2 separate regions of the Homo sapiens genome follow, and region 2 is linked to region 1. A link means that fine-mapping ties the variant in region 1 to the plasma level of a protein whose gene starts in the linked region. Region 1 holds a variant in brackets. A gene starts in the other region. All regions are shown on their forward strands.

Region 1 (12,382 bases):
TCTCCCTGTCTCTGCGTCTCTGTTCCCCCGTCTCTCTGTTTCTGTCTGTCTATCTCCCCGTGTCTGTGTCCCTGTCTCTGCATCTCCGTCTGCTTGTCTCTGTCTTCATCTCTGTGCCTCTGTCTCCCCGTCTCCTTCCCTCTGTCTCCCTGTCTCTCTGTCTTTGTCTCCCTGTGTCTCTGTCTCCCCGTCTCTGTCTCCATCTCTGCATCTCTGTCTCCCCGCCTCCATCTCTCTTCTGTCTCCCTGCGTCTCTGTCTCCTCATCTCTGTCTTCGTCTCCGCGTCTCTGTCTCCCCGTCTCCATCCCTCTGTCTCTCTGTGTCTCTGTCTCCCTGTCTCTCTGTTTCTGTCTCTCTGTCTCCATCTCTGTGTCTCTGTCTCCCCGCCTCCATCTCTCTTCTGTCTCTCTGCATCTCTGTCTCCCCATCTCTGTGTCCTTGTCTCTGTGTCTCTGTCTCCTCATCTCTGTCTTCATCTCTATGTCTCTGTCTCCCCTTCTCCATCTCTCTGTCTCTCTGTGTCTCTGTCTCCCTGTCTTTGTCTCTCTGTGTCTCTGTCTCCCTGTCTCTGTCTCCATCTCTGCATCTCTGTCTCCCCACCTCCATCTCTCTTCTGTCTCTCTGCATCTCTGTCTCCCCATCTCTGTGTCCCTGTCTCTGCGCCTCTGTCTCCTCATCTCTGTCTCTCTGTGTCTCTGTCTCCCTGTCTCTCTGTCTCTGTCTCTCTGCGTCTCTGTCTCCCCGCCTCCATCTCTCTGCATCTCTGTCTCCCTGTCTCTGTGTCCCCGTCCCCGTGTCTCTGTCTCCCATCTCACATGTACAGTCGGAGAGGAGGAGGAGCCCTGGGTGCTGAAGGCAGAAGTCAGGCCGAGGAGCCGCCCTGCAGGGTGTCCAGGTGGCCACACGGTGGGGCCCTCGTCCCATGTCCAGGTGGCCGGGCTGCAGGAGGAGGGTGCTGGTTCCTCAAGGAGGAGAGGGGCTGGGAAGGGGTCAGGAAAGGGGAGCTGGGGTGGGACTCAGGGGGTCTCCATCAGATTGCTCTCAGGGAACCAGGCTGGTCCCCAGGACCCCGAGGGAGGGACAGGACCGCAGGAGGTGCGGCTCAACCGTGACTGCCACAGGAGTGGGGCAGGGGAAGGGTGGCGGGGCCAGGCGTGGGCCGCCCGAGGTGCTGACACTGCCAGGCAGGGCAGGGGTTGCTCACGTCCCAGGAGGCCCCCATAAGACTCCCACAGTCGAGTGCAGAGGTCTCCGAAGCAACTCAGTCCCGCCTACAATCTAGCCATGGGGCTTGGGCTTAACGGGGGTCAATGGGCGCCAGGCCTGAGGACGTGGGGCCCCCAGACACACTTTCTCTACAGGCACGTCGCATGCCACACACCACACATGCACACACACACTTGCGGGCCCTGCAAACACGCGTGCGCAGATGCCAGCACACACGGCCCTACGCGCAGCACACACAGTCACACACACGCCCTCGGCGGCCTCCTGCACAGCTGTGCACTCTTACACCACAGGAGAAAGGAAAGAATCACACCCCAGCCCAGAAAGAGACCACCGTGTGGCACCACAGCCCAGCCTGCAGGGTAGCAGGGGAGAGGCCAGCAAGTGACAAACGGGGGCCGGTCCGCAACCCCAGCTCCCTAACCAGGCACCAACTGCCGGGGCATCTTGGCCCCTGGGCTTCAGCTCCCCTGGGAGGATCCACATGGCCAGGCCGCACACATGCCCCACCCCTCCCCACCCAGCTCAACGTCCTCCATCACCCACACCCCACGTGCCCTGTGCCATCCCACTCAGGACCTCGCTGCTTCCTTTCTCCCAGGGCAAAGCCCAGCTCAGGGGACAGAGGAGGGGGCCAGTGGGGGCCCCTGGAGTCCCCACAGTCACTGGACTTGGCATGCACGTCGGGGTGGGGACATGGCATGAGTCGTCTGCTGAGGTGGCCTTGAGCCCACCTCAAGGACCCAGAGACCTGGCAGGCGGCACCTTTCTAGGGGCTGTCCAGGGACCAGGCCTGGCCAGTATCTTCACCTGGGATCAGGAGGGCTCCTCCTCAAAACCCACCCCAGGGATGTCGGGTGCATCCCTTCCCCCTCCAGGATCCTGTCCTCACAGCCACTGGCAGGGAAGGGGTCGTGGCCCCTGCTCCACAGAACTAGGAGCTGGGCCTGCCATGTGGTCATTCACAGGCCAGCCCAGCCCCATGTCGTCCCAGTTCTGGTGGACAGCAAGACGAGGCCACCTGGTGCTGGGCCTCTCGCCTCCACAGGGCCAGCATCCCTCCTTTAACTAGCGCTAGGCCTGGCTACTGGCTGGGAATACAACTGTTCCAGCACCAAAAGTCACCTGTGCCTGCAGGGTCTCGCGCCTGGGTGTCCGAAGTCGGCACAGCACAGCCCTCACAGACATACCTAGCCCCGGACCTTCTGAGCTGAGCAGTGGGAGCCAGGGCCTGGCTGGCATAGCTCACTGTCTGCCCTGGGCAGGTTGACCACCACAGACAGACAGCCACAGACCAATGGCCTAGAGGACTGCCAGCCAAGGCACAGCCCTTTGTCCAGCACAGCCAGCACCTGCAGACAGGGACAACCAGGAGTGGGTGAGAGTCAGACAGGCTGACCCGCAGAGGGCCTCCAGCTGGGGACATGAGGGCAGACGTCACAAAACCACAGCATCTCCTGTTTCCCTGCCGCAGGCGTGAGGGGACGTGGTGGTGCGGGGAACAGGGCAGCTAGCGGAGCCCGGGGCAGCTAGCGGAGCCTGGAGCAGGAGGCGGCCTGGGCAGGCCTGGAGGAGGGAGCCCTTCTCACCCTCCTGCCCAGAATACCTAGGTCCTTCCTGGCTGGCCAGCTCCGTCTCCACTGGGCTCCCTGACCATACTTTCTATACCCACTTCTCTGCCGTGCAAGGGAGGCCATGGAGGCTTGAAAGCATAGTCTCTGACTATGTCCCCTAAGGTCGGGCCATCCTCCCCTCCTCAGCCTGGGCCTTCCCAAGACAGGGGCCCTTTTGCTGGAACTTTTGGACAGTCAGGTGACCTGGCATCCACCAGGGACCTCTGAGGCTGAGCACAGAGAATGCCCCACCTCCAGGAGCAGCCCGTTGCTGCAGTGGGCCCTGGACAGAACCCCCAGGCCACAGCTGGGGCCCATCCCATGACTGCCCTGCTGCAGACTTGTTGCTGGGCCACTCTGGCCGAGGCCTTTATAAGCGCCTACTGCATGCTGCCCCACTCTGAATGTGGTATGGCCGGCAGGGTGGCAGGGGCCCGGGGTCAGCTCATGGTGCAGCGTTCAGCGCAGGTGCGCTGTTGGCTCCTCTGATGGCTCACGGGGCCAGCCCTGCAGCTAGCAGGGTGTGAGCCCAGAGCCCCAAGGTGTTTCTGGGTCCCCAGACTCCCCAGTTGCTTGTTTCAGCCCAGCAGCCCCCTTCCTGAGCTGGATAGGACCGGGGCTCCTCCGAGAGGCCTAAGTCTGCATCCTAAGGCAGGCCAGATCCCCCTCCCCACCCGTGTCCCAGCCCATCCTCCACCCTGGCACCTACCCGGGCACACCGGTGAGCACTGGATGGCCGTTCCACCTGGAGAAAATGTCCCCTGTGCTGAGCAGGACAGACAGGGTGTGGAGGTGAGGGCAAGACAGAGGCAGGGGCTGGACAGGGAGCGGGCACAGAACGACCAGGGCTCTGGACAGGCCAGGGCAGAGAAAGCAGTGGCCTGCACAATCTTGCCCTGGTGGGCGGCCTCCGGGACTAAAGACGCTCGCTATCCTGAGAGCTCAGTCAACTCAGGCAGCCAGAACAAAGGGCCACAGACTGGGGGCTTAAACCCTACGCATTCATTTCCCATAGCTCTGGGGTCTGGGCGGCCCAGATCAAGGGGCCAGCAGATGCGGTTGCTGGTGAGAACCCGCTTCTTGGCTCCCCGTCGGGGCCTCCCCAGGCTCACATGGACAGCAAGCAAGTGCTGTGGGGTCTCTTCTTATAAGGATACTCACTGTATGGGGTCAGAGCCCACACTTGTGCCCTCATTTAGCCTTGACTACCTCCACCAAGGCCACACCTACGCCCTTTACAGAACCCCCACGATGGGCCACGGTCCTGTTGGATCCTCACCCTCTTCCCACAAAGCAGACACTCCCAGACTTCACCAAGGAGACACGGAGGCTGCAGAGGTGGACGCATGGGCAAGGCCATCAGCTGGGGAAGGACTGCCCTGGCGTCTGGGCTTGTTGCCTGCCTCCTGGCCCCAGACAGCCTATTCCAACAGCCCTTCCTCCCAGCCGCCCACCCACATCTGTCCACCTTCCCGGGGGTGTCCTGTCATCTGCCAGTTCCTTTTTTCACCCTCGAGCAGCCCCCACAAGAGAGGACGGGGACCACCCAACTGCAGAACAAACCTGGACTCAGAGTCGACCAACAACCAAAGGTCAATTCTCTATGAAGGTGAAAAAGAGATATTTTCAAAGCAACTGAATTAATAAAACAGTCCAACTGCTTTAGGAAGATTTATTCATGAAAGAACTTCTGGGACCCCTCCCATATGATTATGGGCACACTGAGACATGTACTCTCTGGACCCCAAAAGCTCTTAAGCTAATAAGAGATAAGTTGTGATTTAACCCATGCCCATCTGCTCATAAAAGTGGTGAGAGTTAATGGATAGATGGATGAATAGATACATAAATGTGTAGATAGGTGCCTAAAGATAGATGCACAGACAGATCAAAGGATGACGGGAGGAAGAGAGGGAGAGATGGGTAAAGGGATGAATGAATGGATGGCAAAATGGATGGATGGATAAGTGGATGGGTGGATGGATGGATGGATGGATGGATGGATGAGGTGGATGGATGGATGGATAGATGGATGGATGGATGGATGGATGGATGGATGGATGGATGGATGAGGTGGATGGATGGATGGATGGATGGATGGATGGATGGATGGATGGATGAATAGATGGATAGATGGATAAGTGGGATGATGGATAAATGGGTGGATGGAAACTGAGAAGAAAGACCTTTGCTGTATTCCAAACACCATATCCTTAGTCTAAAGACTCAACTCTGGTCCCTGCCAGCTTGGACATTTGCCTGGGTTGACCCTCTTGTAAACAGACCTAACAGACCTCCAGTTCTCTGAAACCCCAATCCTTACCAATGTCAGACTTGGTAGCTAGTTAACGTAACCCTGAAACCCTGGCCCACCTGGGGCTTAGCCATGGTAGGGGGGCTGCCCACTGCTAACTGGGTACCTTCTAAGTCCTCTGCCAAGCATCAGTATACCACATTAAGATTTAGTAGATAAATGGGTGCACACATCTGTACAATGTCTCCCTGTAGGGGAATCTCAGGACCCCGCTGAGGGGATGCTAGGAGCTGTGTGCTGTCCAGTCACTCTTGTCTTCTAGGCCCAGCAGAAAGGTCCTCTACTCCTCTGAAACAGAGGGGATCCCTCAACCCTTCCTCCTCTCCCTCCCCCATGGGGGCCATTAAGACCCCCATGAGTTCTAGACCACATGGTCCTCTAGTGCTTGGTTCATCCCAGGTGTCTGCCAGGCCCTGCCCAAAAATGCAATGTCTGGGCAGCAAGGAGGCTGAGGCCAGACCCCACCCTCATCCATGCCTGGAACCTGCATCCACGTGGCAACCCCTCCCTCCAAACCCAGCTCATGCCAGGGCTCAGAGCATGGTGGAGAGGGTAGCCCTGGGCACCTGGGGCATGGCAGGACTGCCCTGCCTGCCC[C/T]GCCTGCCCCGCCCTGGCCCGTGCCTGCAAGAGCCACCTAGGGAAGGCTCCTTCACCTGGCCCTGGGCCTACACTCCACCCAGGAATGTCCTGCACCCCTGGAGTGTGGAGATGAAGGTTACGGGGTCCAGCCTCTGGGCACCGGGACATCTGGGGTAGGGGCTGAAGGCCATTCAAAGCCCCTGCCCCGAAGTCTACCTTCCCTCCTCGCCCCTCCCCCACCCACCCTGGGGGAGGTTTGTAATCTTCAGTGTCATAACCTGTCAGGCCTGTTTGGAAGGGAAGGGCCGCCAGCTTCCTACCAGGGAGCAGGGAGCTCAGGCGTTGGTTAGAGAAGAGGTGAAGCGTGCACAGGAAGCGTGCGGGGCCCCCCTGGGCATGGGGGAGGGGCGCCGGCCGACGGGAGCTTGGGCACGTGCTCACACACGGGACTGGACCGTGTGTCACAGCAAGCCTGGGTAGGTGCAGACAGGTCCGCGCGTGTCACCTGCGCAGTGCACAGGGGCCTCTGCTGCGGACGCAGGGCCTGCCGGAGTGACTGCCTGGCTGCCCAAGATTCCAGGGGTTCCACTCCATCCGGTGCTGAGTGGTGCCCCCCACCCCAGAGACCTGGGACAGCCGAGAAATGGAGGAGAGGAACCCACCCACCCAGCCCTGTGGCCTCCAGGCTTGACTTGGGTGCAGCTGGCAGAGGCCCTGCCCCTCTGGCTGTCTCCCTCCTAGAGGGGTCTAGGAGTTTCAGGAACTGGGGACCGAGGGAGGTCTTCTGCAGAGACAAGAGGGCGCAGGGCGCAGGCCAGGAAACCCCTTCACCTGCAGAGCCATCGGTGTGGGGAGGTCAGCCACGGGGTGTCTTGGTGTCTCAAGGGGGCCTTAGGTAGAGCTGTTCACTCCCTCCTTGTGGCCCCCCGAGGCCCAGGAGGGACCTGGAGCCCATGTCCCAGGAGTGCCCTTGGGAAGGTCAACTCCAGGAACCCTTGCAGCCCGAGGCTAGGGCTCTGAAGCTGGGATGGGCAGCGGGGGCCCTGCAGGGCCCCACAGGCACAGAAATCTCTGTAATCCTGAACCATAAAGGGGCCGCCTTCCCTTTTGATTCTAAATTTTAATAGCAAAATGAAGAGATAAGTCAGCTTTGATCTGAGTTTTATTAGCCTATGCCTTTGTTCCCTCTCTCCTTTAGGGGAACAGACGGGTTTACGGCTGGTCTCCCCATCCCTCTGTCAGCTGCAGGCGGGTGGCGGGCGGCCGCTCTGATAAGGCCTGGTCCCTGCCCCTGTGCCTCTGTGGGGTGCCGGCACAGCAAGCCTGGGACCTGGCCGCCGGCCCCTCCGCCAGGTCACCGGGAGGCCTGGGGGGCAGGTACCCTCAGGTTAGGGGGACTCTGGGATACAGACCCCTGCAAGCCCGTGGCCTCCTATTTCTCCCATCCCACCTCCCTCCCTCTGCCTGATGACTCCCGTGGGTGGGGCTTCTGCCTTCCCAAGCCCCTGTGCCTCAGTTTCCTTACCTAAAGAACAGGGTGCTAATGGAGACAAGGGAGACCAGGAGACAGCTCAGCCAGGGGCCAAACCAGCAGCTATTGCTATGGAGGTTCAGGGAGGTGAGGATGTTGGACCACAGGCTGGGAACTGGCCCTCCAGGGACCCCTGAGGAGAGCAGGCCTGGGATCCTGGGGCTGGGCTGGGGGAGCCGGTGGACTCCAGGGTGAACGCGGTGTTAGCCTGTGTCTGCTGGGACTGGGCCACAAGAGTTCCCAGCTTCAAAGGGCCAGGGGAGGCCTCGGGGCCCCGCCCACCTGTGAGTTCGGGGACATCAAAGGGCCCCACCCAAGGGGCGGCTGGCAGTCGGAGCAAGGGTAGAAACATCCAGAACTCTATCTCCAGAGGGAGCGGCTGGGGTCAGCCCCACCCCTGGGTCCACTGGAGGCCCCCTGCAGTGACCCGAGGCCCCTGCCTCACCCTGAGGTTCTGGCCAGGCCGGTGACACCCCACCTCTCTGGGTGAGGGCCTTGCTCCCAGGGGTGGCTGGGGAGTGGTGGGTGGGGCTTCTGGGGGCTGTGACACAACCGCACTCCACTTAATGATCACCCAGTTTTAACGGGGATCCAGGAGCTTCTGGGGGGTGCTGGGTGCTGGGTGACACCATGGCCCCCTCGTGCGTCCCTAGCCTGGCGGCAGGTGCTCTGGGCCCTCTCCCTGGGACTATCTGCCTGGACGGCATTTTCTGGCCCTTTTAACACCGGGGTCCCTAGCCCAGCCCTGGGCCTTTACGATCAGGAGGTGAGGAGGACCCCTCACCCCAAGGGAAGCCTCACCCTGATGGGACAGGCCTGGCCTCGGCTGAACTGCACAGAGGGGGGGCCCTTGAGAGCTCCCCTGCTACAGCCTAGGTGCCCCCTTCCACTGCCCTGGCAGTAGCAAAGGTCCACAGCATGGGTGGACATGCCTGATGGCAGCCCTACTGTGTGCCAGGTGCCAGGACGCAGCCTGACCCCAGGATCCGGTTCGCTCCTCTCCACAACCCTGGGCGGGGATCCTCTCCTAGGACCCTCCGGAGCCTGAGGGTCAGAAGGTGGTGACATCCAGTCACACGGAGAGGGACTTGGAGTGTCTGTACGGCACCATCCTGTCCCGCTGCCTAAAGGGAGCGCCTGCTTCAATTCCTGCCCCCAGGGCCGTAGGAGCAGGCCTTCCGGGACTCCGTTCCTAGGATCACCGATGGAATTCCTGGTGGGGGTGGGACTCTGCCCCTTCAAGGACTCTAGAGGATTCCATGACAGGGTGGGTTGGGCCTGAAGGGCAGGGGCCAAGTATGGGGGCCTCCCCACAGATGTGAAAGCAGAGGTTTCCCTACCTCCTGCCAGAGGGCAGGGAGCATAGCTGGATGCTGTGGCTGGGGGCAGGACTCCTGGCAGCCTTGTTCCCCAAGGCAGAGGGTGACAAATCACTAATTGGCCTCTGGGGCGGTGCTGCACCTGACCTGGGCTGTCTTCAGGGGCTAGTGATTCGCTGAAAAAAGCCCACATTCTGCCAAGGCTCAGCCTCCACACCTCCTCACATCCCAGCCAGCCATCCTCCCCACCTCCCTCCCTCCCAGCCTCCAGCCTCCCCACCTCCCTCCCTCCCAGCCTCCAGCCTCCCTACCTCCCAGCAGCCCAGCCTTCCAGCCTCCCCACTTCCCAGCCCCTCTGCCTTCCAACCTCCCTACTTCCCAGCCTTCCAGCCTCCCCACCTCCCAGGCTCCCCACCTCCCAGCCTGCCCACCTTCTACCTCCAAGCCTCCCCACCTCCCCACCTCTCAGCCTCCCCACCTCCCAGCCTCTCCACCTCCCTACTGCCCAGCCTCCAGCCTCCCTACCTCCCAACAGCCCAGTCTTCCAGCCTCCCCACTTCCTAGCCCCTCTGCCTTCCAACCTCCCCAACTCCCAGCCTCCCCACCTCCCAGCCTGCCCACCTTTCTACCTCCAAGCCTCCCCACCTCCCTACCTCTCAGCCTCCCCACCTCCCAGCCTCCCCACCTCCCTACCTCTCAGCCTCCCCACCTCCCAGCCTCCCCACCTCCCTACTTCCCAGCCTCCCTGCCTCCTTACCTCCCAGCCTCCCCACCTCCCTACCTCTCAGTCTCCCTACCTCCCAGCCTCCTCACCTCCCTACCTCTCAGCCTCCCCACCTCCCAGCATCCTCACTTCCCAGCCTGCCACCTTTCAGCCTCCCCACCTCCCTACCTCCCAGCCTCCCCATCTCCCTACTTCCCAGCCTCCCTGCCTCCCAGCCTCCTTACCTCCCTACCTCCCAGCCTCCCCATCTCCCTACTTCCCAGCCTCCCTACCTCCCAGCCTCCTCACCTCCCTACCTCCCAGCCTCCCCACGCCCCTACCTTCCAGCCTCCCCACCTCCCTACCTCTCAGCCTCCCCACCTCCCAGCCTGTCAGCCTCCCCACCTCCCAGCCTCCCCACCTCCCAGCCTCCTTTCCTCGTGTGAGTGTTGTGGAGGGACATTGGGAGAAGGGGCTTATCCGGGACACAATGCACTGATCCTAAGACATTTGTTTACACTTATTGTCTCTGAAAGCAGGTTTCATGTGAATGCTGCCAACAGCCAGGTTCATGACATGGTGGCCCCAGCTCAACACGGATGAACCTGACTGTATCACCTGGCAGTGACCCCTCTACACTTCCATCCCAAGCCTCAAGGGCCCATCTAGGGAAGGACAGTGAGTCTGGGGCGCCGTCCAGAGATCATTTGCTGGCACCTGCTGGTAAGATCTAGATACCGGCAGAGCAAGCAAAAGTTCCCGGGTCAATCGTGGAGGCCCCTCTTGGGGAACGGGTGTCCCCCAGCCCTGTACATGGCCCAAAGGAAGAGTGTATGAGGGACAGCCTCGGTGCAATGACTCTAGACAAAATTGACCCGGAGGAAGTGGACTCAAATGTGGGGACAGTAACCCTTACTTGCTGGTATTTTCTCTCTACGTGTGTATACAACAGTGATTTATGAAAATCCCTCCCTCAACCCATCAGGCAAGGTGCTTTCAATAAGCAAGAAACAAAACAAGGAAAACACTATTTCCTTGTTTAAGTTCCATTTCTTTTTTTTTTTTTTTTTTTTTTTTTGTGAGACAGAGTTTCATTCTTGTTGCCCAGGCCAGAGTGCAATGGTGCGATCTCGGCTCACTGCAACCTCCACCTCCTGAGTTCGAGTGATTCTCCTGCCTCAGCCTCCCCAGTAGCTGGGATTACAGGCGAGTGCCACCATGCCCAGCTAATTTTGTATTTTTAGTAGAGATGGGGTTTCTCCATGTTGGTCAGGCTGGTCTCATTTCTTTTCTCATCATGATGGCAAAATGATGGTAAAACTTGACATGGGCCTTAGATTTGAAGAACCAAGAGGGCGTCGAACAGCCACCCTATCTTGTGTACATTTTCCATTGTATTTCACTCTTGCAGCTGCCTTATAAGGTAGGGTCTACCGTGGTCCTGATTTTTCACATGAGAAAGCTGAGGCTGGGACTCAGGTCACACATGCAGGCAGATGTCCCTTATCAGAGTGTCCCTTCAGGGTCACCCACAGCTGCCCAACAGCAGTGACTACAGCCAGGAAGTCGTGGAACCATCGCCTCTCACAGTTCTGGAGTTGACGGGTCTTAGCTGGGCAGTGCTCACTCAGGGTGTCTCGTGGGCAGTCAGACGACAGCTGGAGTGGACGTCGGCTCAGAGCATCCTTGCTGGCAGGTCTGGTGGCTGGTGCTGACTTTGTCAGGTTCTGCCAGGGCCATTGGCTGCACATCTGCATGTGCCGCCTCGGTGGCACCTGGGCTTCCTCACAGCATGGCAGTCAGGCTCCAAGGGCAGCTGCCCGAGAGCTCCAGGAGGAAGCTGCGTGGCCTCTTATGATGTGGTCTGGGAGTTCCAGGGTGTCCCTTCTACTGTGGTTGTCAGCCTGCCCCAGTTGTAAGAGGTGGGAGAGGCCCCACATCTGCGTGTCCACACCATAATGGGGAAAGGGTACGCACCACCTTCTGAGAGAGTCATCTGCCACGGGGTGGCACAAGGTCATGGCATTTCACATGGTTGTCACCCAAAGAAAGCCCTCAGCCGTGGAGCCTTGCCCTCTCCAGAAGCGTCATAGGAGATGCCCCGTTACGTCTGCAGACAACCCGTGTGGGTTCACAGCCTCCATCAGCAGGTCAGTTGTTTGTTCCCTCTGAGGAGCAGGAGCAGGGGCCCAGGCACGCTCCCAGTGGGCACCGAACACCTGCTGCTGGGTGCCTGCCCCGCACGTAGGAGGGACACAGCGGTGAGCAGGCGCTGGTCCTCATGCGGCTGCCTGCTGGTGGAGGGAATGTCACGATCAGGGAAGAAGCAGATCTCACATAGAGATGTCAAACGCTGGCATCCAAGAAAAATCCAGCCGTGTGGCGGGAGCAGAGGGCTCCGTGAGGAGAGGCAGGTTCCTTGCTCTTCAGCCTCCCTGGGAAGCTGTGGGAGGAATGTCTGCACCGTGCAGAGGCCCTGAGGCAGGAGTGAGTGTGTCTGCAGCTGGTGGGCAGTGAGTGGGGAAAGGTGCAGGCCAGGCCAGAAGGGCGGCCTCTGAGAAGGGGAGCCTGATGAGGACAGCCCACGCCCTGGCTTGACCCCGGGCAGCTGCTCTCAGCAGTGCCTGCAGAATCCATGAAAATGCTGATCCCAGGCCCTACCTGTGACTCACAGTCTGCGGCCAGGCCTGGGATGTGCATTTTGCAGGAATATTCTCAGAGCTCCAGAGCTGGCAGACCAGGGTGAGCCCATGGCCTAGAAAACCAGAAGGACCGGGAGGCATTCCTCAAAGGCAGGAAGGTTTGGAATATCAGAGAAGAGGGGGATGTCCTGGTGCCCCCTGGCCTGCTGGGCACAGGCTCACATAGCCTGGGCTTCCCTGGTGTTCCAGGCAGCTGAGGAGTTTGAGGTCTGAGTGCCCTGGGGTAGAGCGGGATGGCAAGCCAGGTGCCAAGCAGAAAACGGGGTCACTCCCCCGCTGCCTGTGAGCAGCCCTGAGAAGAAGCTGGCAGCTGTCCACACCTCACGCCAAGGCTGGCTGGCCCCATGTTCCAGAAATCACCCGTCCCAGGCTGCCTCGCTCGCCGCGCTTCTC
Region 2 (12,382 bases), not on the chromosome of region 1:
GTAGCTGTCAACACAAAAATCAATATCTGGCAACGTTTTTTGTCAAGAGCAAAGGTGAAATAAAGACATTTTCAGACAGATGATGACTTTTCCTCCAACAGGCCTCGAATAAAGAGGATTTTAAAGGATGCACTTTCAGAAGAATAAGAGTAATCCCAGATGGAATTTCTGAAATGCAAGAAGAATTAGATGAGCAAAAACAATGACAAATATATGGGAAAATCTAAACAAATATTACTAGATGAAAAAATAATGGCAATATTTTGTGGATTTAAAATACACTTAAAATACATAATAACAATAGTATGTAAGATGGGATGGGGTGGACAGTTCTAAAATATCCTAAGGTTTTAACGTTATGTGCAAGGGCTGTAAATGTATTAATTTTTACTTTAAAAGTCATGTATGCATGTTGATATCTCTAGGATTAAAAAAACTGAAACAGAAGATGAATACATAATTTCCAAGTTAATAAATAGGAAAAATGAGAATGAAAAATCTTTATCAAGCAAAAAGCAGAGAGGACAGAAGGGAAAAATAAGCATACAGAAGGCAGGAAAAATAACATGAAATAAATCCAAATATATCAGTAATTATGATAAGTAAAAATAGCTAAATATTCTATGGATACCATCTAAAACATGCAAGATGATGAATGTAAATGGATAAAAATAGCTAGATGAAGCAAATACTACAAAAGAAAGTGGATGCACCTATAATAATATTAGGTAAAATAAACTTTAATAGAGCAAAAAAATGTACAAGAGATAAAAGGTCACTAAACAATAATAAAAGGAATTTGTTCACCAAGAACAGATAACTTTTAATCAATATTCACCCAGTCACATAGTCTCAAAATACATAAAACAAAGAATGCAAATAATGACAAGAAGAACCAGAGAGATCCACCATCAGAATAGAAGACTTAAACATATTTCTCCATAATTTTTAAATCAAGCAGGCAAAAAATCAGTAAGGATATAGAAGTTTAAACAATGTAACTAACATACCTGATGTGATGAACATACCTAGAACCTACATCCCCAAATGGAGAAATTCATATTTTTTCAAGCACACACTAAAAATTTATGAATATTTACTTCATAAAAGGCCATAAATCAATCCTCAACAAAGTTCAAAAGATGGCTACTATAGATCACATTCTCCACCTACAATGCAATTAGATTTAAAAATCAGTAACAAAGAAGTTACATAAATCATGTGTATTTAGGATTTAGGAACACTTTAACTCATGGTCCAAGGGAAATCACAGTGGGAATCAGAAGAAAATTATAATTAAGCAAAACTCATAGGATGTCTCTTAAGCCTTACTTGGAGGGAAATTTATAGCTTTGAAATGATTATATTTTAAAAAGCTGCAAATTAACAAGTTAAGTACATATATATTTAAGTTAAAAAAGAAATGGTTATTAATGTATCAATATTTTGTGAACAAAATTTACAAACTATTTGGGAAATAAATATAATAATGTCCTTATTCTGTGTAGACACCTAGATTTAGCTATGCCTACCATTTGTTTAGTAAGTACTATGTATCAGACTTGGTGCTGAGATAAAACTTCTATATAATTTAGGAATGTAGACCCAGAAGGGGAAAAATAGGAAGAAAATAAATTTTAAAAGCTACACTATGCATTTGTATTATTAAGTTTGTAAGAAGATGGCTGTATAAGTGGCTGGAAAAATATTTACAGTTTCAACTTACTTTAACAGACCTAGAGCTTTTAAAGCACTGGTTTTGTGCTTTAGTACAGGTTACAAAAATCTTCTTTCATAATTTAGTGATATCAACTCCTTAAGAAAAGATGGTATCATTGGGGTAATATAGAATACTAAATAGTCACTGTTTGCAAGACACAGTGCCAGATGCTATGTTCTGTGGGGTAGGAAGGGGAGAGAGGACAAGAAATTTTGAAGAGCCACTTGAGTGTGATAGGCTTTTAACTTTAACACTTAGCCCACCTCTTAAAAAATCCCAAATTACCCCAAACAACCACCTATAAAATCACTATTAACTACTACTTTAAACTATTCAAAGATTTTTATTTTTATTGTTAGTAATGGTGTAAAAAGGTATCTCTTCCACTGCTAATAGCAGTATAAATCAGTAAAATTCAGCTGGAGACCACTTTTAACCTTATGTTATAAAGACTTACGATGTTATACATTGTTTAGCCCAGCACTTGTGCATTTAGAACTTTATCCCGAAGAAATAATTACTAGAGTGTGCAAACATTTAGCTGTAACAGCAGAGGTTTATGATAGTGAAAACCTAGGGACAATTGAAAAGTCTAAAAAGAGGATATTAAATAAATTATGATAATACTGACATTAAAATAATATCATAGAAGAATATTTAATGACATGCTTCATAATATTAAGTGAAATGAGCAAGTTACAGAGCAGTATAATCTACTTTTTCTGCATATAAAAAATTACTGTAAGGACATAAACCCATATGTTATTATTGCTAGTTATCTCTAGATGTCAAAATTATGGAAGAAAGTTTTCTTTCTTGTTTTGTAGTTTTTCTAATCTATATTGTTTAAATTATCTGTACTATTCATGTGATTGCAAAGGAAACAGTAAAATGTATATATTTTAAAAATAACTCTATTTCTAGTGTTTTCTTATTATCTTATGAAAACCACTGTCCAATTTCTTTTGTTCTGCTTGCATGGCCCTTTGGAACTGGTGTGGCTTTAAACCAAGGCTGTCTCTTTGAATTCTAAGGTCTACTATACAGTCTGTGAGATGTCTACAGAGCTTGAATGTTCAACAACATATGAAGATGAGTATTGTTTATATTTCCAGTTAGAAATATCATTCTGAGTTTGTAAAAAGATGCAGATATTTTAGCTTAAAATTGAATGGATGCATCAGAGTTAATTAGCAATGCTTCAAATTACAGACCACTGCCTCTTCTTGTGCAACTAACCATCAATTAGCTATGCTAATGAGAAAAGCAGGAAATGATTGCAGGAGAAAATGAAATCAGTAGGGAAAAAAGAAAAACAACTGATTTTAGTCTCTAGTTTCAGCCATCAATTGTCAAAACTTACCAGGATTACATATAAGTATAAATTCTAACCTCTCTTTGAAAGAGGCAGTGTATTAATAAGAAAGTAATGTTAATTCTTTAGAAGTTTTTTCTTTTCTCGATTATCCTTCAGAGATGCCATACCTAAATAATAAAATGACCAGAATATGAGCAGCAGGAAACTTATAGACAAAAGGTTCGTCAGTGGTTCTAGTGTAATCCCTAGGGGAACACTTAAAAAAATATCAGCATAGAGGTCTTTCTCCAAACCATTTAAATCAGAATCTCTGTGGAAGGTGCTAATTAATCCATAAGATGCAAAATGTATTTCAACTTGATTCCAGCTGCTGAATATTTGCTTTACTCTGAGTTCTCTTTTTGGACAGGAAGGGACTCTGATAAACCACCTCTGGTTCTTTCATCCCCACCTCCATCACTCCATTTTTAGGCAGGAGAACTTTCCCAATGAGACAGTCTTACAGGTGTCTCCTGTAGGATCTTTAAATACCTTCCTACTGGCTCTCTTCTCTGTTAAGGGCTTGGATGATTTTCTCAAAGAGAAACTTTTATGAGGGAATGCAGGATTCCTAAGCAGTATCTCCCTACCCAGTGCCATGATAAATATTTGGATGCAAAGAAAACAGGAAATAAGTCATTGAATGGAGATTGCAGCTCCCCAGAGAGCTCCAGATGACAGGCTCCTGGAAAGTGTTCCAAGTTCTGTTTGTTCTCCAGTCCTGAGAACAGTAATCTTTGCGGCTGTACTTTTCCTCTTCTTTCCCTAGATTTCACTTTTACAACTTTAAAAAAGTATAATAGCTTGCATTATATGCTTACTGCACAAAGTTTTAAGACAAAAGAATTACAAATAGCAAAATTGAAATCATCTGTGAGCCTCCCTCTTCCCCACTCCAGAGAAACATATCATTAATGTCATTAATGTATATCTTCCATGTTTTCTATGTGTAGAAACATGTATTTTATTTTACAGAATTGAGTCATCATATATGTACACTTTTGTAACTTGCTTTTTAATCTTAACCTTATGTTTTGAGTTTTCTGGATCATCAAGCTTCAAAATCAAGATTTCTGTGTATGCAGCAAAGCCCATCATAGATATTTACTATCATTTATTTAACCATCCCTCCACATTAGATCTTGATTATTACTTCTGAAATCTGCCTTGTTTTATCTTTTTCCACTATTTATCAGAAAACAAGATCAGCCCTGGTGGGTTCATACCAATTACTTTTCCTAACTGGTGCTTGACATTGTATCCACTAATTTCCTAAAGTCACAGATGATAATTACAGATACTGAACCCTTACACCCTCCTATGCTACATATGCTTTTCTCCAATTTTTGTAACCAGCACTTGCTTAATCGGTGATAATACTGCTTTTCTTCCTTTAGGCTAAGCCACACTCCTCAAAAATCCTGAAGTTTACTTCACCGTCTTCCAAATATGTATGTATGTATGGAAGATTCATCATTTTAGTAGCTAACTTACACTGAATGTTACTGTATATACTGTGACAATAGGTTTATATGATTTTTTAATTTGACCTTTATGATAATAACACGGGGTAAATACTACTATTATTCCCATTTTACAAAGAAAGTGAGGCTTCTTTTGAGTAACTTGCCCAATATCACACACAACTAGTAAGAGGCAAAGCTGGGCCCTGAACCCAGAACTGTTTTCTTCTGAACCATTTTTTTCATTATTATTAACTAAAGTCCGTGTTTATTAAAATTTTCTTAATTTTTACCTAATGGCCTTTTTCTGTTCCGGCATCACACCCAGGATAAAACATTACATTTCTTTGTCATTTTTCATTAGGTTCCTCTTGGCTATGACAATCTCTTAGACTTTACTTGTTTTCTCTAACAGAGTCATCCCTCATCAGCTACAACACCATAGCAGATATAATTCATTGTGCATTACTATGTATGGTTCTGATCCTCACAGCAACCCTCCAAAACAGATGTTTTAATCCTCATTTTATAGATAAGAAAATTGAGGCTTAGGGAGATGAGAACTAATGGTGCAGTTCACAAAGCTGGTAAATAATGGAACTCAGATCCTGACCCAGGACTATCTGACCTTGAGTGTCATGTTCTTTTCACTACTCTGGTTTAGATGACTTATACATGCATGCTTTTTATAAATAAATCTGAATGCTAAAACCAGAGTCAGGGTGCCATAAAGAAAAGTTACATCTGGTTCAACTTTCTTATCTAATATCCAAGCACTTTCTATAGATTATCCAACGAAAATTTCTAAATATATAGTCAAAAGGTATCAGTGTAGTTTGTACACGTTTCCACAAAGCCTTGCCCAATTTTGAACAGTCCTGATTGTTAGAAAGCTCTGTGTTCCTCCAACTGATTTTTATCCTTTGGTCTTAATGTGGCTCTTAGGAGCCAAACACAATCATCTAAGCCTTCTACCTAAGTACCCTGCAGGCAGACACATCTCCCCCAGACTCTCTTTTCCTGGCAGAGTACGGCTTAGTTTATATTTTCCTCAGCATCCTAATGATGCTACTTTAAATCACAGTGACTTGCAGTATCCCTGTTTAGTTGCAAGTCCTTATAGTGCATTTTGGTACAGCAATGTGTATGTCCTATACAATCAGGACTCAATAATTGCTGTTGACTTCTTCCTTAAAGGGAACCACTTACCACCATCACCATCCCTTCTCGCCTCCCCTCTCCACACACTACATTTCTAAATCCTCAAGTCCAAAGGACCCTAACACTGACACTTCTTGCAACCCTTTAAATGAGGCAGCTCTCCCTAGAAAACCCCTTGAGACACAAGTTTGGAAAGTGAGTCAAACGTAAGAGGGATGTCTTCTCCGAGTCTGAGAAGCAAGTTAAAGGGCAAAAGCAGTGAGCCGTGGACGCCTGGAGACAGTTTCTTTCTTCCTGAATTCCCCAAAGCGCAGAGACAGACAGGATCTGCCAGGACAGCGCGCAGGGCGGGGCGGGGACAGGCGCGCCAGGAGCGGGGCGGGCTTCCAGCCGCTGGTTTTGCTGAGGGCTGAGGGACGGCTCAGCGACGCCACGGCCAGCAGCGCTCGCGTCCTCCCCAGCAACAGTTACTCAAAGCTAATCAGATAGCGAAAGAAGCAGGAGAGCAAGTCAAGAAATACGGTGAAGGAGTCCTTCCCAAAGTTGTCTAGGTCCTTCCGCGCCGGTGCCTGGTCTTCGTCGTCAACACCATGGACAGCTCCCGGGAACCGACTCTGGGGCGCTTGGACGCCGCTGGCTTCTGGCAGGTCTGGCAGCGCTTTGATGCGGATGGTGAGTAGAACAAGCCACTTGCACACTCAGGTGTAGACGTGGCTCCAAGCTCAGCCCGCTGAAAGGACCTGGAGTTTCCCCTTTACTGTAGGAAAAGTTATCGACCTGGGTTGTTAATGCAGTGTACCTAATACAGTATCATTAACAGACGTTTGGCATACTGGTGATACACATCTATATACCTTGTTAAAATTCTGGGTGGTGAATTTCCACTTTCCCCTTTCCAATCTCTCTTTGTGTGCGAGCGCGCCATATATATGGTAGACATACATATATATTGTATATACAATGACTAATATCATTGTATATGTTCAAGGCTTGTGGGCTGAGACTCAGCTATTTGAAGTCATCCTTCCCTAAATGGGCTCACTTTTACGCAGTGACTTTGCTGTACACCCCTCACTCTCTCAAAATGAGAATAAATTTTATCAGCTTTCAAAACGACTCCTCCACCAAAAAACTACTTGAAAATAAAATGGAACTACTTAATATTTGTTTTTATTAATAAAGAAATAAAATATCTAAAAGGTGTGTTTTAACTCTGCAAACTGGGATTCAATACTTACACCTGTTAAGTTTCTCCAAGCTTCAGAAATTTTGGGGTTAAATTTTATTGGAAAGTTCACGTTTATTCATTGATTAAAATTCATGTACTTAATAGCCTTCCTTTTCCAAGCACTAATATAAACCCTAGCATAAAGCACGTATTCTGGAACAGTGTTTACTGTTCAAACCCATGTATTCTAGAGGTAGGTGTTGGCACTTTGTTATTGGAATAACAAAAAATAGTGTTGAGGGAAGCTTTATGAATTGTGAGATTAAAAACATATTTAGATAAATACTGTCATGTGTTTTTTATATGTTAGTATTATTTATGTTTATTTTCTCACATTTAGAAAAAGGTTACATAGAAGAGAAGGAACTCGATGCTTTCTTTCTCCACATGTTGATGAAACTGGGTACTGATGTAAGTACTTGCACACTAAGCCTTAATTTATGCCTCTTAGTAAGATACGCACATCCAAGTCTTATATTGATTGGTACCTATTAATTCCAACTCACCTCCTTTCTTCCTTGCATGTATGTAATTTCTCCCCCTCTCCTAGCAACATAGAGGGATTTAGGCAGTTTTTATAAAAGGTGCAACTGTAGCATTAGACATGCTGGTTACTGACTTTCAGTGTAACATCTGTCATCCACTCAGAGATCCTAACTGTAGACTCAGTTAACTTGGTCTTGAACGTCTCCTTGGTTATGTCTCTGCTAATTGATTTATACCTGGGGGTAAAGTAGCCCACTTTGTTCAAAAAGCTGGAAAAGATGTTAAGCACATTAAGATTTTGGGTGTTTAATATGTATGATACTCCTCTGATAGCAAACCACAAACCATTTAAAATCATTTATCCATTATTCATTTTATTAGAAGAGGTTACAGATTTTTCAGGGAATGACAAACCAGAAAACAACCAGCATACTCAGAGCCCAGATACAAATGGAAGCCAATCTATCTAGTGTCCATCTGATGGTAAATATGTCCTTGGGAGATGTAAATGAACTCTTGAAAGTCTCTCTATCAAAGCAGAGAAAAATTTTACACAGAAACACATGAGCGGAGGACAGCCTGGGGATGGGCTCGATCTGATGAAAGCTCCAGTAGGGCATTCATAGTAGAAGGAGACGCTCTAGGGACAATTGAATTTAAATGAATGATGGAGATAGTTTGTCCTTATCATTCAGCTGTTTATCTGAAGAATAGAAGTGCATCACATTCTCATGTGAGAGCTCAGTGAGGGAACAAGGAGCTCTTCACCACTGTTGAGAACATGGGGAGGGTATGTGGGGGGCAGGGGAAGCTGGTTCAGAAACAAAAGGGCTGGCTTCCGCCTTCTTCAGCCACACAGATCTCTTGGTCCCCCTCTACTTCTGTCTGCCTCTCATATTCTGTCTGTCTCTCTTTTTTATGTCTATCTCTGTCATTTTTCTGCTCACTTCTGTTTCTTATCTCTGTGTTTCATGGCTCTCATCTCCTACTGTTTCTTGCCTTTCTCTCTGACCTCTCTGTTGCCCATCTTTCTTGTCTCTGTTTCTCATTTGTTTCTCCATCTCTCTGTCTCTGTGTTTTCCCATTCTTTTTCCAGTCTCTCTGCTTCTCAAAGCTCTTTTGGTCTTTCCTCTCCCCATGTCTTTTATTTCTCCTTTCTTCTTTCTTTCCCATCTCTCTTTTTGACCTTCATTTCTTTTCTCCACATTTTCTCCTTCACCCTTTTCTTTGTCTCTTATCTCCCTTTTTCTGTACCTTTTATTGCTCTTTGTCTGCCTGCACTCCACCCCTTACCCTGTGCAGCCTGTGAAGTGAAAGGATCAGCAGACGAGAAGGATAGAGACACAAGTCCCTTCTTTCCTCTGGTCAGACCACTTGCGCACACTCCTCTTTATCCTTCATTCTTGTACCTACACAAGCTACAGGTAGAGCTGAGGAAGCCTCCCCCAAGTGAGGCTTCTGCTTCAATCTAGCCAGCCACTTTCACGTGCTAGCAGCCCATGGTGAAGCCCACCAGCCTTGCCCACAGGGCTTCTACTTATATCTGTAAATGTAAGGTTCATCGTGTTCCAGAAACCCATCTTATCTATCATGGACATGGGTATTTGAGGAAAGCAAAAAGACAAAGTTAAAACCATTCAAAATCTTGGAATAAATGGGATGGCCAGCTCCTAAAAATCTGTCCTCAGGGACCTGGAACTTCTCACCTTTTCAGAGGGCTCCTTGTTCTAGTCATTTATAAAAGGGAGGAGAAAAATTGCTGTCACTGTTGAAGCTGGAGTATCTAATATTCATTCATCGAGTTGGGGTCTGCACTAAGATGAGGATGCTGTGAGATATCTTCATCTGAGATTTTGGCTAACCTTAGAAGCATTGTTGCCATTGTGAGAGAAAAGAGGGATGTCATCTCTTGCAGCTTGGCTGTTTTTATCATTGCCCCTATCTCAGACCTGGTCCATGGACTAATGCTCTTACACAGGGGCAAGCATAATCCTCGAGGAAAGAGGACAGCAAAGGACTCACTGGTGTCCTGCGCAACTGCATTCAGTGCAAATATCTCTGAGGCTGGAACGGGGGTTGGAAGTTCTCATAATCCTTAACCTAGTGCAAATCAAATTTCAGTATGCCTGAGAATTATATTTTTTTGTTAAAATGCAGACCCCTAGGTCTCATCCTGTAGGTATTTAAATACATTTGGGGTCTGCCAAAGATCTTTCATTTTAAAAGCACTCAAAGTCAGTTAGCATGTTTTTTTACCCTTTTTTCCTCTAGGAACAGTGACTTTTGGAGAGGGGATTCTGATATAATTAGGCCAATCCCACTGAGCTGTGGCAATAGCCTCAGGCACATCTCATGAGCACTTGGCTGGGAAGAAAGCTTTTGGAGCCAGGATGATAAGTTTGAACTCTTAACTAGAAATGATATCATCTGCCATTGGATGCCTTTCAAAACGCTGAGGCATTACTCTGGGGAGTGTGTTTGCAGGGACTTTCACTGGGCACTCCATGCTACCTGGACAACCATGATTAAGGAAGCTATTCCTAATTTTGGGTTTTGTCTCTGATGAGTAATAAGTAGGCCTTAAGCAAGTTCTTAACAATAGGGCAGGACTTCCAAAATGGAAGGCCCTTCAGTTGAGGAACAGTCACCATTTGATTGTGACACCTGCTTTTGATTGGTAATGCCCAGTGAGTACAGAATCCAGCAGCAGGGAGGCCTCCACAATCAGGCAGCCCCTTGCTCTGGTGTTCAGCAGTGGTAAGCCAACCTTCAGAGGCATGAATAGCTCTACTTTCCTCTGATGATTAGCGGATCACAGAGATCTCAGAAGAAGGTATTTTGAGGTTTCTAACAGCAAGCTGCCTGCTAGTCTATCCAGGAGAGCAACCAGCCTGCTTGTAATTACCTATTCCTCAGAGCCTCGGAGGGGATTGACTTAATGGAACCATCAGCTGCAATTGCTGCTGTTTCTGTTACTCCCTGCAAACCTTTTCTTTCCAAATGCTGAGATTTTAGCCAGTTCATGGATAAACATCAGATTCTATGTGTACATACCCCTCACATACAGACTGTACCACATCCTGGGCCTCTTTCAATACTTCAGGGATTATAGTACCCTGCTGTAGCCTAGCGTCTCAGATAAGGACTGATGGGAAATTACAACAGAGGAAGCCCCAGTTTCTTTTGCTTTAGGTCAAAGGGATAGTCATGAGCTTTGGGGTTAGGGGTCTGAGAAGACAGAAGCCAAGATTCTGTGTCCTCAAACTAAAGGTAATGTAGAATCTGGCCACTGTTACTTTGACTTCACATTTATTTACTTTAAAATCTAATTTTTCACCAACATGACCTATGTTAGTTAACTTCCTTTGGGAATTCCCAGCCCATCATAAAGAATCATTTATTCATCCAATGGATCCTGTGTTCCAGAGATAAAGAAATGAATGTTATACTTGTGGAGTTCTTAATCTAAAAGATCAAGCTGAATTTCAAAGTGAAGTTCGACCCTGTTGAGTGATTTCCATTGTGCTTTTCCTGTATGGTACATGAACCCTCAAATGTAAGCACACACAAAATCTTTAGTGCTGAAACTAGACAGGTTAATCCCACCACGATTAGTGGGGTATCACATGAGGTAACCTGGTTGACAGAAGAACCTGGAGTCTCAAAGAACCTGTTCACCTTCCACAGAGAATAAAAAAAATGTACCTATTGTCTCTGAAGACCCACTCCAAAGAAGACTCATGGTCGGTGGGGAAAGGACAACTATGTGTGGAGGCAGAAATCCAATGCTCATTCCCTGTCTCTCCATCTAGAGCTGTGTGATAGCAACATGCCATTTAAACCTCCTGGGTCTCAATTTTCCTATCCATAAAATAATAATTATTAGAATAATGTTTTGGCCTGCCTGTTTCACAGTGAAGACCCATAAGATAACACAAGTGAAAGGTGCTTTTAGTTGCAAAAGCACCCAACATATATGTTCTTATGCTGACGCAATATCTTCTTGGGTCCTTAGTTTTCCCAGTGTTTATTCTATGCCCCACTTTGCCTCAGATCCACCAAGGGGTTATCCCACACAGGATCATTGAAGCTTACTCTCTTAAACACTGAAATGCTTTTAAGATTTTATATATATATATAATATATATATTACGTGTATATATATATGTGTATGTGTGTGTGTGCATATATATATGATTTCCAGTTTATGAGAGCAAGTTTTCCAAGCTAGGGTAGCCTTTGGAGGATGCCTTAAGTCATACTCACCACCACTCTTTGGTCCTTCATGAGTAAAGGAGGCTACTCAAAGGAAGACAGAAGACAGACTGTCACCTCAGGGACCTGTTAGACTTGCTCTGTCTTAGACAAATGATACAGGCATTATCTCTCATTTCTTCACTTGATGCTTTGGTTCCAAATCACTAATGTATTTTTTCACATTTTTAGTCTGGTGTGTGTTCATTTAGAAAGGTATCCTTTTTTTTTTTTTTTTTTTTTTTTTTTTTTTTTTTTTTTTTTTTTTTTTTTTTTGAGAGGGAGTGTCGCTTTGTTGCCCAGGCTGGAGTGCAGTGGTGCGATCTTGGCTCATTGCAACCTCCGCCTCACGGGTTCAAGCTATTCTCCTGCCTCAGCCTCCCGAGTAGCTGGGACTACAGGCACGTGCCACCACGGATGGCTAATTTTTTGTATTTTTAATGGAGACGGGGTTTCACCATGTTAGCCAGCATGGTCTCAATCTCCTGCCCTCGTGATCCACCCACCTGAGCCTCCCAAAGTGCTGGGATTACAGGCATGAGACACCATGCCCATCTGGTATTCATTTTTTTTTTTAACTAGACCCTTCACTGTTCCCCATTTATAATCACCATATGAGTATGTTTGGTTGATGTTGACAGAGTCAGACTGTCTAAGTCCTCTTATTTTAATCATTTTGGGTTTCTAAATACAGGACCAAAGCCAGAGGTATA

Alleles and levels. Alleles are on the strand shown, and positions count from the first base shown. The strength of an association depends on the size of the effect and on how common the allele is.
As copies of C replace T in region 1, the plasma level of the protein whose gene starts at base 6,103 in region 2 goes down (weak association).

What was found. A credible set is the group of variants that fine-mapping cannot tell apart. PIP is the posterior inclusion probability: the model's chance that the variant is causal. Protein levels are from antibody-based Olink assays in UK Biobank. Linkage for the fine-mapping came from a reference panel and not from the study's own genotypes, which makes the PIPs less certain.
Region 2: SCGN starts here. The variant in region 1 is the best candidate, but not a certain one, in a credible set for the plasma level of the SCGN protein (UK Biobank, PIP 0.63).

The regions. Positions count from the first base shown.
Region 1 is chr11:2,196,492-2,208,873 of GRCh38, forward strand. No RefSeq gene overlaps it. Among named protein-coding and RNA genes, the nearest start is that of MIR4686, 30 kb to the left of the region's middle. RefSeq lists an enhancer at 8,184-8,782. The variant C/T (reference allele first, on the strand shown) is at 5,753.
Region 2 is chr6:25,646,113-25,658,494 of GRCh38, forward strand. SCGN (secretagogin, EF-hand calcium binding protein) reads left to right here and starts at 6,103. Exons shown (of 11, transcript NM_006998.4): 1 at 6,103-6,373; 2 at 7,270-7,340. The coding sequence starts at 6,292.